Linked DNA regions of Homo sapiens. The protein of the gene in region 1 purifies or fractionates together with the protein of each later gene. This does not show direct contact. Each region holds a gene or a part of one and is shown on either strand. Other genes may lie near its edges.

Region 1 (3,263 bases):
AACCAAAGTGGATCAAGAACTCAGGAAAACTGCCATGGGGCCTCCTCTCAAGGGAGGGGACCCTCAAGCGGTGGCGGCCCTTCCCCACCTCCCTTCTTCCCCTGGCTGCCATCTGCCCCCAACGCTCTGGGCACAGGGCCAAGTGGCAAGTGGGCCCTGCCCAAGCCTCTCTGGGAAATGGGATTTGCAGGCCGACTGGACGAAGGCACTAAAGATGCTACAGGTGATCAGAGGAAGCTCCTCACGCAGAAGCAGCCAGCACCCACGTGATAGGGGGTGGAGCTGGGAGGCGCGGCAGAAGAGGGCTGTTCAAGCAAAACTTTGGCACTGCAGGTAGACACTGAGCATCCCCCCAAAAAACTGGCTTTGTGGGTCCAAAAGTATCTCGCCTGATGAACACTGTGAACTGGAGATCTCTGGGGCAGGGCAGGGTGGGGAGGGGCGGGGCAGGGCAGGGCAGGGCTGCCTCGGTCGGGTAGAATGGGAAGGGGTTCTGCTCTGCTCTCTTACTCTGGGCTGGGAGCTAGAAATGCTGGGTCCTGATTTTGCTTCTGCAGTGATTTAGTCATGCCTCTCCAGACCTCAGTTTGACAGATGACCACATCTGCCCTGGGTTTCTTCAAGGGAGAAAACAGATTTGGCAGTGCGTGAAAAAAGAAAAAAACATTACAAATGCCGGAGAGGCACAGGAAGCAGCTCTGCCTGGCCCTTGGTTACCTGCCTCCCTATGGGACCGCTGCATGCTATGCTCAGAGCCCTCCAGGCTGGCCCTCGAGGCCACCTCAGCTCCCGTTGCTCCATAAGCTCTATTCCCCAGGGGGCAACAGCTTAGAAGAGGGAACAGGGCTCTGTGTCAACCACCAGGACCCTGGCATTCTCCTGTCATGGAGATGCAGCTGTTGAGTCCAGGGCAGCCTTTGGTATAGGCTGCTGTGGGCTGGAGGGATGGTGGGTGTGGGAGCAGCCACGAATGCCCCCTCACCCCCCTCACAATGAAGCCACTTGGCCACCACTTAGCCAGCTTCTATCTCTTCCCTGCCTGGTTTGTCTTTTACAGAGGGGAGGGCACAGGCACTGAAGTCAGGCAGGCCTGGACTCAAATCCTCTTCCCTCTTCCTCCTGGCTGGTGTGTCCTTGGGCACATGGAGCGTGAATTTCCTCATCTATAAAGGGAGGTTGTGAGGGTCAAAGCATGAATGCAAAGCGCCAAGTACAGTGTTTGGCACCCACGAGGCACTCAGCAAAGGGGTGCTCACAAGGGCACGACTTGTGAATGGGCCTCTTATTCAAACAAACTTTGAGATTCTTGCTTTAGGTAGGCAAAAATGAAATGCTCCAAGTTGGGGTGGGAACTCTCATTGAAAAGCCCTGGAGGGACCGGAGCCTGCAGCAGCAAAGCGCAGCATACGCGGGGCTGGAACCACCCTTCAGGGCTGACCACGGTCCCAAGATAGAAGGTGGGAGGCAGGGCGGCTGAGCGGATCTCCAGGCCCACTCCTGGGGGAGCCGCATCCAGTGGAACCTCAGAGGCCCACGGGCCTGAGGCTTTGGGGAAGGGGACACTTTCCCTGGAACTGGTAATGGAATGCATTTCTTCAGGATGAAGTTCCTTCTGGTAGCAGGCAATTTAGGAGGAGTGAATAAAGCCACTGGGCTTTTAGAAACATGAAGAAGTTGGAGCAAAAGTCATCATGGACTGGGTTGGCTGCCCCTTACTGTGCCATGTCCAAGCCATGAGAGACCCTTGCTGGAGTTTCTCCAGGCAATGGGATCCAGTCCTGGAGGTCTTGGAGAGTCTTGGTCCCACTGCTGGGTGGCAATGCCATTGGCCAGGAGGAGTTCTCTTAAGGCAGGGATGCTGACATGGACAGAAAGCAAAGGCTGTGGGTTCTGAGCCTCCAGTGATGCTGTGATAGGAGGGATCAGGCCCAGGGGCGCCCGAGGTGTCCGAAACTCACTCTCCACCCATGGGAGGCAAGAAGTCACAGTACCCCAGAGTCTGTCTGCCTTGGAAGCTGCGTGGAGAATGATAAATTAAGAGGCGTATTAAATACGTGGGTAAAGCCAGCAAGGACCAGCGGGCCCTCTAGGCAGAAAGGGAGTCGGCTACGGCTTCTTTCTGAGATAGTTGGAAGGAATCCACCCTTCCCAGGAAGGGGCTCCGCTCAGGACCTGGCAGAACCACCAGCCACTGCTGTTCTTCTCCCGGACTTCAAACACTGTCCCTTCCTGGAAGCTGCTGGTGTCTTTGTCTCCTTCAAAGTCGGCCACGGCCACATACAAAGAGTCCTTCAGGCCGTCGGCATTGGGGACAGAGGCTGCAGCTGCTTTCTCCCTGTTTTCTCCAATCTTGCCGGTCCCCCATGGCCCCAGGCTGCCTTTGCCTCGCGTGTCATCCTGGCCCCCCAAAGAGTTGGAGAGAAAAGGTTTGGCTTTTGGAGGGACGAGGAGAGCACGGCCTGGGGTGGGAGCTGCCCTGCTTTCGTGGCCTTCACACTGTGGACCTCTGACCTCTGGGAGCGGCCTGGATGACGAAGAGGTTTTCTTTGGGGGAGGTGGTCTGCGGGGTGGGACCACAGGTCTCTGCTGGGGAGCCTCTTGGAGAGGAACAGGCACGCTCTTAGACACAGGATCTGTGGTCTTGGCTGGCCTCGGAGGGGCTCTGCAGGAAATCTCTTTTGGGCTGAGACCATCCTGTTTGCCCGTCCTGTCCTGGGCGCGGCCAGGCCCCTCTCCTGGGAGGAAGCTTCGGCTGAAGGCCACGTCTTGGCCCCCTACTGCCTGGGGGCCCTCCCCATCCAACAAGGACTTGTCTTGGGACTTGGCAGGCCTGAGCTTACTCCTGAGGTTGCAGATGTCGACTTGGTCTTCGCCCTGAGGTGGCTCCGTTTTGGGGGAAGGAGCTGGTTTTGGCCTAACCTGAGGTCTGGACTTCAAGAAGGGATTCTGGGGAGTGGCATCTGGCTTCTCCTCTGGCAGGTCAGTTTTGGATTTGGAGATGGGCCGGAGGTTGGGCTTCTTCACTTCCTTGGCCAAGACCTTGTGGCCACACTCCAGCCCCATGTCATTTTTCAGCTGGAACAGTCTGCTTTTGTCAGGTTTGGGCTCTGGCCTCCTGCTGTCCCGGGCTGGAGGGATGTGTTTGGCTGGCATCATCGGCAAAATCACGCCCGGAGGCTTGGGAGTGGGGCCCCGGAGCTGCTCCGTCCTCTGCCGCTCCCGCTCCCGCTCCAGCAGCTCCCCCTCCGACTTGATGATGGATT
Region 2 (3,135 bases), on another chromosome or scaffold:
AATCCTACAGAAGAGGTATCAATTATACAGGGGAAAATGTACCTTTACAATGGTCACCACAATAACCAAGTGATTCAATTTAGCATCACCCAAGGTGGAACACCCTAACATTATGCCCCTCCTGATGTGACTTAAGAATTTTACCTATTTAGTTTTCTTGCACAAAGTGTTAAACTGGAATTTAATCATGAGGAAATTATTAGACAAATCCTGAATGTAGTCATTCTATAAGATGATTGACTTGGGCTTCTCAAAAAGTCAGTGTCATGAAAAAAAAAAAAAGGGGAGAGACTTGTAAGATACAATGACCAAATGCAATGTTTGAATCTTTATTGTATTCTGGATATTTAAAAAGACAAAAGCTGGACGCAGTAGCTAATGCCTGTTATCCCAGCATTTTTGGGAGGTCAAAAGGGGAGGATGGCTTGAGCATAGGATTTTGAGACTAGCCTGGGCAACACAGTGAGTTCTCATCTCTACAAAAAATCAGAAAATTAGCTGGGCATGGTAGTGTGCATCTGTGGTCCCAGCTACTTGGGGGGGTGAGGTGGGAGGATCACTTGAGCCTAGGAGGTCAAGGCCGCAGTGAGCCATGATCATGTTACTGCATTCCAGCCTGGGTGACAGAGTGAGATCATATCTAAATAATAATAATAATAAAAGAAAGCAACAACCCAGCAAACAGCTATAAAGATATCTTCGGGACAATTGAGAACATTTGAATATAGACTGCATATTAGATAACAATGCCAAATAACTGTTTTCTCAGGTGTGATAATAGTATATGTAGAAAATGTCTTTTTGTTTTGTTTTATTTTGTTTTTGTTTGTTTGTTTGTTTTGAGACAGAGTCTCACTGTGTCGCCCAGGCTGGAGTGCAGTGGCACGATCTCGGCTCACTGCAACCTCTGCCTCCCAGGTTCAAGTGATTCTCCTGCCTCTGCTTCCTGAGTAGCTGGGATTACAGGTATCTGCCACCACTCCAGGTTAATTTTTTCTATTTTTAGTAGAGACGGAATTTCACCATGTTGACCCAGCTGGTTTTGAACTCCTGACCTCAGGTGATTCACTTGCCTTGGCCTCCCAAAGTGTTGAGATTACAGGCATGAGTCACTGCACCCAGCCAAAAATGTTTTTTTAGGCAATGCATGCACAAACATTTAGAGGCCAAGTGTGTCATGATGTCTGCAACTTTCAATGTTCAGCAAAAATCAACATGGAGAGAGAAAGAGGGCACACATGTGGCAAAATATTAGCCATTGTACAATTGGTAAATCTAGATGACAGTACACAGGTGTTTGTTGTATTATTCTTTGAACTTTTCTGTAGATTTGGAAATGTTCTGCGTAGAGAGAAATCTTTTTTTAAAAAAACAATATCTGGTTTTGATTAATGAGGCTATATTCAAAAGAAACACTAAATGATGTGGCCAGTTAGTGAGAATGTAGCCTTATCTTTACTGACCTCATTTTAATATTCCTACTCTGGCTGGGCATGGTGGCTCACGCCTATAATCCCAGCACTCTGGGAGGCCGAGACGGGTGGATCACCTGAGGTCAGGGGTTCGAGACCAGCCTGGCCAACATGGTGAAACCCCATCTCTACTAAAAATACAAAAATTAGCTGGGTGTGGTGGTAGGCGCCTGTAATCCCAGCTACTCGGGAGTCCGTGGCAGGAGAATCGCTTGAACCCAGGAGGTGGAGGTTGCAGTGAGCTGAGATCACGCCATTGCACTCCAGCCTGGGTGACAAGAGCAAAACTCAGTCTCAAAAAAAAAAAAGAAAAAAAAAGATATATATATTCCTACTCTTATTAAATGAATATAGCATTTCTTAGCAACTTCTTTTGATTTGTGAGTATATATTTTCTTGGCCTCAAAATTAAAGTAAAAAGTATCCTCTTACTCAGAGGAGGACAGGGGCAAGAGCCTGGGACCTTATTTGCTAATTAAAATGCACACACACACACACACACACAGAAATTTTGAGAGCCATTTTAATATAATTGCCTCCCTAGAAACATACCTTTTAGGGAATTTTTATCACTAAACCACATGTTATTTAAATACGTACATGTTTAACATAAATACATACATAAAATTCACATGCATACTTAACACTTATGTTAAATATATTCAATGTATATACATATGTACACAATATATGCATATATACATGTGGGTATGTGGTATGTGTGCATGTGTGTGTATGGCCAGCTACATAATTTGTGGGACTAAGGGCAAAATGAAACTGTACGGCCCTCGTTCAAAAATTAGGTGTGGGGTGCTTCTAAGCACAGTCTTGTGCAACTGCACAGGTTGCATGTCCATGAAGCCATCCTGTGTGTGTGCACATATGTGTATGAATATGTATTTTATATAATACATATATATGCATGTATGTATCTGAGAAGAAATGTTTAAAAGGCTACATACAAGCTTTTCCAGGTCTCTACTATCTGTTAACTAACTAGAGACATAACTCACAATATGCAGTCCCCACTGAGTGTTCACCATAATTTGAGATTCTTGGCATGTTAACTTTTCATTATGGAATATTGAATAATTTCAATATTATTCATACATTTCTTTATGTTCAAACATACACAAAAATAGAATAATGAAACTCTACCCATCACCCAGCTGCAACAAATATCAATACTTTACCGTTCTTAATACATCTAACCCCTTACTTTTTGTTTGTTTCTTTTGGTGAAGTATTTAATTGTAATTTTTTTTTTAAGAGACAGGATCTCACTCTGTCACCCAGGCCAGAGTACAGTGGTACGATCACAGCTCCTTGTAACCTCGAACTCCTAGGCTCAAGTGATCCTCCTGCCTCAGCCGCTTGAATAGCTGGGACTACATGCATACACCAACACACCCAACTAATTTTTAAATTTTTTGTAGAAATATGGTCTTGCTGTGTTTCCCAGGCTGGTCTCAAACTCCTGGCCTTGAGAGATTCTCCTGCCTTGGTCTTCCAAACTGCTGGGATTACAATATCCGGCCCTACTGGAATATTTTAAAGTAAATCTCAGGTGTTACATCATTGCACTTGTAAGTACTTTAAAATGTATCTCTAGCAGATAAATCTTTTTAACAAAACCACAGCATCATTGTCACACTCAAAAAAT
Region 3 (3,500 bases), on another chromosome or scaffold:
CAGGCTGGTCTTAAACTCTTGGGCTCAAGTGATCCACCTGCCTTGGCCTCCCAAAGTGCTAGATTTACAGGTGTGAGCCACTGTGCCTGGCCTAGTTGTTTTTTTTATGGTTTCCAGATTTTATGTCTTGCTTAGAAAAGCCCAAGAAAATAAAAATATTTTCCTGCATTTTATTCTAATACTTTTATAGCTTTTATTTTCAAGTTAGATTATTTAATCTAGCTGGAATTTACAACTCAATAATGAAAAGACAACTCAATTTAAAAAACATGCAGAGGACTGACTAGACATTTTTCCAAAGAAGACATAAAAATGGCCAATAAGCCCATGAAGAGATGCTCAACATCATTCGTTATTAATGAAAATCAAAACCGCCGGGCGTGGTGGCTCACGCCTGTAATCCCAGCACTTTGGGAGGCCAAGGCAGGCGGATCATGAGGTCTGGAGTTTGAGACCAGCCTAGCCAAGATGGTGAAACCGCATCTCTACTAAAAATACAAAAACATTAGCTGGGCGTGGTGGTGGGCGCCTGTAGTCCCAGCTACTCGGGAGGCTGAGGCAGAAGAATTGCTTGAACCTGGGAAGCGGAGGTTGCAGAAAGCTGAGATCGCACCACTGCACTCCAGCCCGGGCAACAGAGTGAGAATCCGTCTCAAAAAAAAAAAAAAAAAAAAAAAAAGAAAATCAAAACTGTAAGGAGATACCATTTCACATTTTTTGAGTCCAATATATCTCCTTTGTTGACTTATAAGCTATAACTCTTTATTGTGTTATTTTATTGGTTGCTTTGGGGTTTAACTTACAACAGTCCACCTTCAAGGTGTGTTACACTACTTCACACAGTTTAAGAACTTTACAATAGTGTACTTCTGTTTATCCCCTTCTGTTATTGTTGTCATGCATTTTGCTTTTACATAGTTATAAATCCCATAACACAGTTATTTTGTTTATATGACATATAATAAGATTAATAGAGACCCAGCCTTCAAGTAGGATTTATCCTAGGAGTGCAGGGTTGGTTTAACATTTGAAAATCAATAGGCCGGGCATGGTGGCTCATGCCTGCAATCCTAGCACTTTCGGAGGCTGAGGCGGGTGGATCACAAGGTCAGGAGTTCGAGACCAGCCTGGCCAATATGATGAAACCTTGTCTCTACTAAAAACGTAAAAAATTAGCCAGGTGTGGTGGCATGTGCCTGTAATCCTAGCTACTCGGAAGGCTGAGGCAGGAGAATCGCTTGAACTCGGGCGGTGGAGGTTGCAGTGAGCCGGGATCACGCCACTGCACTCCAGCTTGGGCGACAGAGCGAGACTCCATCTCAAAAAAAAAAAAAAAAAAAAAAAAGTAAATAAAAGATCAAGACAGTAAATTTTATGTTTGTTTTATTGCAGTTATAAAAAGTTAAACATAACACTTAACTTGTGATTCAGCCATTCTATTCCTATATATTTATTCCAAGAAAAAGGGAAATATATCCATACAAAGGCTCGTACACAAATATTCATAGCAACTTATTTGCAACAGTCAAAAATCAGAAGCAACCCAACATTCATCAACAGGTGAATGGATAAACAAATTGTAATATACTTATACAATGGAATACTACTGAATGATAAAAAGAATTGAACCTTTGATACAGGTATGAACATGATGAATCACTACACTGAATGAAAGAAGTCAGACAAAAAAGAGTACATACTTCATGATTCCCTTTGGATAAAACTCTAAAAAATGTAAACTCACGTACATTAACAGTGACAAAAGCAGGTAAGTGGTTCTTGAGGAAGAGAAGTGGGACAGGTAAGAGAGGGATTACCAAGGGACAGGAGGAAACTTTTAGGGGTGATAGATATGCTCACTGTTTGTTGTGATGGTTTCACAGGTGCAAACATACATCAAAACTCGTCGAATTCTATACTTTAAATATGTGCAATGTATTGTAAGTCACTTACCTCCCTAATAAAGCTGTTACAAAATATATACAGGTTATTTAAATTTTTATACCTTAAGGGAAATAAGTTCAGTTACTCAAGATCTCCATGTCTTTCTTAATTTTATTTTACTATGATTCTTGTTTTTTTTTTTTTTTTTTTTTTTGGGATGAAGTCTTGCTCTGTTACCTAGTCTGGAGTGCAGTGGCGTGATCTTGGATCACTGCAACCTCTGCCTCCCGGGTTCATGCGATTCTCCTGCGTCAGCCTCCTGTGTAGCTGGGACTTGACAGGCATGCACCACCACGCTCAGCTATTTTTTTGCATTTTTAATAGAGTTGGGGTTTCACCATGTTGGCCAGGCTGGTCTTGAACTCCTGACCTCAGGTGATCCGCCTGCCTCGGCCTCCCATGGTGCTGGGATTATAGGTGTCAGCCACCGCGCCTGGCCTACTTTACTATAATTCTTAATTTTACTTTACTATACTTACTTTACTGTATTGTATTTTATTTACTGTAGCCTTTTATTTAAAGGAAAAAGAACAGAAATGTCTCTTTTGCTAGTTAAAAAAATTTATGGGCTACAATTCTTTATAATTTTTCTGAAAGACCACCAAATAATAATAAACATGAGGTTGGGTAGGTTTCCAAGTATATATAACCCAGAAAATGGTGAATTCATTCTGTTCTTGGCATGATGTTTTCTCTTTTTATTAAGAACTCAGACTTTCCTAAAGAAATTCCAAAAACAAATGGTGAATTGGGGCTATTCTAAAAGTTGCTCTCTCTTCCACAAAGGGTAGTAGAAGCAATACAATGACAGAACAATTTTGTTTTCATATTTAATTTTATCTTACCCATCAATTTGTTGACATTTTGTTTCTGTAGGTGGCCAATGAAGTGCCATTTGATCTCAGGACACAAAGACAGAATCTGAGGGGAAAAAGGTAACCATGTGTAATTCAGATTTTATAGAGGCCTTGCTGGCTCAAACGCCTCGTGCACTCCCTGTCACCTTTCACATCCACTCTCTGTTCCTTAAATGTAATAAACTATCACAATCTTCACCCGGCCTCCTAATGAGGTAAAAGGATAGAGAAAAATCTAAGGCTTCTGTTCTGTTTTCCTTCCTTGTTCCCATCAATTCCCTCCATCTTTCAGATATTGCCCATCTAGGATGAACTGATTTAAGCTTTCAAATCTTGAAAAGATCCAAGATTACAGCAAGCTCCTGAAACCACCATTTCCAAACAGCCACCAATGAGAAAACGACAGTCTGAACAAAGAGAAAAATCTAGCTGAGAATTACTTGGGGCTCAAGGAGGAAGCTGACATTTCTATCCCTGGCCCAATCTAAAGTCAACCACCCTAAAACTGCTGTACAACTCAACCACCAGGATGGGTCTAATTTTCAACTAAAGAGCCAAGATTTAGATACAAATTAAAGAATTCAGCTATCTACTTACTTTGGGATTTGATGCTTTTTCTAGCAGTTCCTGAACCTAAAAGGTCAAAACAGAACAAGTCAGAAGCCTGGCAATCATGATGCTTCCAAAGGGCTTCAGGAA
Region 4 (3,500 bases), on another chromosome or scaffold:
TTATGGAGACCAGTCTCACAAATCTCATATGCAGTCCATTATTGACAAGGTAGGACCTTTTTTGTTCCTTACTTCTTAGACTAATCTTGGCATTTTGGTAATTCATTTAACAAATGTATATTAAAGTGAATACTGTATAGCTTTTGTAAATTGTATTTATAGCCAGTGTCATGTCATAACCAATCACGTTATAATACCACTTTGTTCATTTAAAGATTTGATTAGTTTATATTTTTTATTTTACTTATTTTATATTTTATTGTATTTTTACTAGAATCACAGAGATGAAGGCCAACTCTAGAGACCACTCTACATTTAATTTAGAGAAATAGAGTCAAATAGTAAGAGTAACCTAAAAAAAAAATAATGAACATTTACTAAAATCTTAATATGTATCTAGTGGTTTTAAATAATTCATTTAATCCTCTCAACAGCCCTGTATTATCCATTTTAGACAAAGACAAAGGGAAGTTAATATGTTTTTCCAGCATCACATAGATAATAAATGACAGAAGTGGATTTGAACTTGACCATTCTCAGTGTAGAGTACACTAACCTTTTACCAGACTATTCCCCCCCACCTTTTTTTTTTTTTTTTTTTTCCTATTTCTAAAGATAGAATTCCTTGAATGGGTAATACAGTGAGAATTGGGAAATATGTTTTTTAAATGCTTGGTGTAGGGTGGGCACAGTGGCTGATGCCTGTAATCTCAGCACTTTGAGAGGCCAAGGTGGGGGGATTGCTTGAGGCCAGGAGTTCAGTCACAGCCTGGGAAACATTGGGACACTCATCTCTACCAAAAAAAAAAAAAAATAGCCAGGTGTGGTGGTAGGCGCCTATAGTCTCAGCTACCTGGGAGGCTATGGTGGGAGAATCCCTTGAGCTCAGGAGTTTGAGGGTGCAGTGAGCTATGTTAGCACCTCGGCAACAGAGTGAGACCCTGTCTCTTTAGGGGGGATAAAAAGGCGGTACATAATTTTCAGTTACAATGTAGGTTGTTTGCTCTGCTCTATAAGTCTTCCCTGGATACCTTTAACCAGACTTTACCTGCAACTCTTAGGTTTGGACAGGAGCTTGTATCGGAAGTTTTGCAACTCATTTATAATTTACGGAAACGCTTAACGCTTAGTAATGATCTATTAGAGGAGTACCTTTCTACCTCTGAAGAGAAACTTGGCTTTTTTTGTTTGTTTGTTTGTTTGAGACAGAGTCTCACCCTGTCACCCAGGCTGGAGTGCAATGGCACTATCTCGGCTCACTGCAATCTCTGTCTCCCAGGTTCAAGCGATTCTCCTGCCTCAGCCTCCCAAGTAGCTGGGATTACAGGCACGCACTACCACACCCTGTACCACGCCCAAATTTTTTGTATCTTTAGTAGAGACGGGGTTTCACCATGTTGGCCAGGCTGGTTTCGAACTCCTGACATCGTCATCTGCCCACCACAGCCTCCCAAAGTGCTAGGATTACAGGCGTGAGCCACTGTGCCTGGCCTGGCTTGGCTTGTCTTTTATAAAGATTCTACAAGGTGGTTAATCTTGTCTGAACTGAACTGTGTAACTAGGTGTATATCCTACAGTAATTTTCTCATATCACACGCAGTGCTTTAAATTTAATATCCAGAGACCTTTGCACAACAAACTGGTAAACTTTGCAGTGTGTGTGATATTTTATAGAGCAATAGAACTTTCTGTAATCATGAAAATGTTCTGTGTATGCACTGTCCAATATGGTGATCACTAGTCACACACGGCCATTAAGCATTTGAAATGTGACTTTTGCAACGGATGAACTGAAATTTTTATTTCATTTAATTAACTTAAATTTAAATAGCCACATATTGCCAAGGTCACCATATTGGATAATAGAAAAGAGAATTTATTAAAAGCGATGAGGAAAGCACTAATTCTAGTAAATTAATGGGGAGAGAAACAGGAATTAACAATTCACAAAGAAGACTCATCAGTATATCTAATTGATGGTAGGCTGAATTGAGAGAGGTCTCACATTTGAAGAATGTGACAGCAGAGGCAATACAGTACACAATGTGCCAAGCTCTGGATGCAGAGAAGTACAGAATTTATTTGGGTAGCAAGTAATCTACTCTGGCCAAAGTGTAGGGTATATGGGAAGATAAAAATTAAATTTAATAAATCGCAAAAATGATTGTGATATAAATAATCTTTATATTTAAAGGATTATCTGACCTTTGGGAAAGTTAACATTTATCTTTTTTAAGTTGCAGACTCCAGCCTCTTTTGCACAGAGTGTTCAGGAACTAACAATTGCTCTCCAGCGAACTGGAGACCCAGCAAACTTGAACCGACTAAGACCCCATTTGGAGCTGTTAGCAAACATTGACCCTAGTCCAGGTAAACCCACGGGAAATTAATGGACTATCTTATATGTGCCTTTCGTGCTGCTCAATGATTCTTTAATTATCTTTTGTTGTTCCTCTAGGGTTTCCCAAAGTAGTTACTCCAGATCTTTTTTACAGTATTTTAAGTTTCCATTTTAAATCTTTTCCCTCTTTATCTCAGGTTAGTTCACTTTAATATTTATTTAATACTTTTTATACTGTTGCTCATTTCATCAGGAAAATAGATTTCTCTGGGCTTCTTTATGTTTCTTCTTTCTCCCGTCACAAAATTGTGTTGTATTTTACCATTCTTACCTCTTCCAAATCTCGTTTTTCTCATTTTTTTCTGTATTATGTATCCTTAGTTGCATTTCCTTGATCCTGTTTTTGCCCTCTCCATGATATCTTGTTCCTTCAAGTATCCTGTCTTGTATATCTTTACTTAGGCTTTTTCTGCTCCTTCTCCGTAACCTGAAAATATACCCAACCTTCATTTTTCAACTTGCACTTACATCTAAGTTATTTTAGCTTCTCTGTGTTTATTCCTACTACTGATCTGAAGCTCTCTTAATATTCACTAGTAGATTCCCAGTCTCTGATTCCAAAAGCTTTGTCTTAGTCTTTAAATCACTCCCATTTGTTTTCAGCATTTCGATAATGTTGTTGAGCACTTTTTTGATATCTTTCTGTGATCTCATAGTTCTCTTCTGACCTGAGTGCTACTTCTGTCTTATTTGTACCATGCCTTCCCCTCCTGCCCACTAAAGAGTAGGCAGGTTATGCTCTTGGAATTTTGTTTTCTCTACATGCTCTGATGGTGGTTATTCATTCTTAGCATCAGGTATTACCTTAGTGTAGAATACAGACTCCCAAATATCTCTATCACTATTATCTCTGCATCACTCCAGATACATCTCCCAGTGCTTGCTGAGATTCCCCATCGTGTCCTCTGAGTGCTTCAAAGCAAGCTCATCATTTCTTGATACTTGCTCTTCCTTTAATGTTTCCTCTTTCTGATAATGACCTCATTCTCTGAGGTATGTAAGTTTAAAACCTTAATGTTTTGTCTTGTCTCATCTTTTCCTTTCACTTGTTCTACATACTGTTTCATACAATGGGATTTATCTGTTCTTCTTTCACAAT

The links.
Region 2: the proteins of SH3PXD2B (region 1) and EIF2AK2 fractionate together in Homo sapiens (co-fractionation; one large-scale study listed by BioGRID). This does not show direct contact.
Region 3: the proteins of SH3PXD2B (region 1) and PLPBP fractionate together in Homo sapiens (co-fractionation; one large-scale study listed by BioGRID). This does not show direct contact.
Region 4: the proteins of SH3PXD2B (region 1) and RC3H1 fractionate together in Homo sapiens (co-fractionation; one large-scale study listed by BioGRID). This does not show direct contact.

What each region holds. Positions count from the first base shown.
Region 1 is NC_000005.10:172,336,263-172,339,525, forward strand, and holds part of SH3PXD2B (SH3 and PX domain-containing protein 2B), read right to left. Parts: coding exon 2,107-3,263; 3' UTR 1-2,106. UniProt on the Homo sapiens protein: Adapter protein involved in invadopodia and podosome formation and extracellular matrix degradation. Binds matrix metalloproteinases (ADAMs), NADPH oxidases (NOXs) and phosphoinositides.
Region 2 is NC_000002.12:37,101,846-37,104,980, reverse strand, and holds part of EIF2AK2 (interferon-induced, double-stranded RNA-activated protein kinase), read left to right. Parts: 3' UTR 1-3,135.
Region 3 is NC_000008.11:37,765,645-37,769,144, reverse strand, and holds part of PLPBP (pyridoxal phosphate homeostasis protein), read right to left. Parts: intron 3,435-3,500; coding exon 3,399-3,434; intron 2,866-3,398; coding exon 2,790-2,865; intron 2,664-2,789; coding exon of another isoform or gene 2,611-2,663; exon of another isoform or gene 1,367-2,610; intron 1-1,366. UniProt on the Homo sapiens protein: Pyridoxal 5'-phosphate (PLP)-binding protein, which may be involved in intracellular homeostatic regulation of pyridoxal 5'-phosphate (PLP), the active form of vitamin B6.
Region 4 is NC_000001.11:173,977,358-173,980,857, reverse strand, and holds part of RC3H1 (roquin-1), read left to right. Parts: coding exon 1-49; intron 50-2,237; coding exon 2,238-2,370; intron 2,371-3,500. UniProt on the Homo sapiens protein: Post-transcriptional repressor of mRNAs containing a conserved stem loop motif, called constitutive decay element (CDE), which is often located in the 3'-UTR, as in HMGXB3, ICOS, IER3, NFKBID, NFKBIZ, PPP1R10, TNF, TNFRSF4 and in many more mRNAs.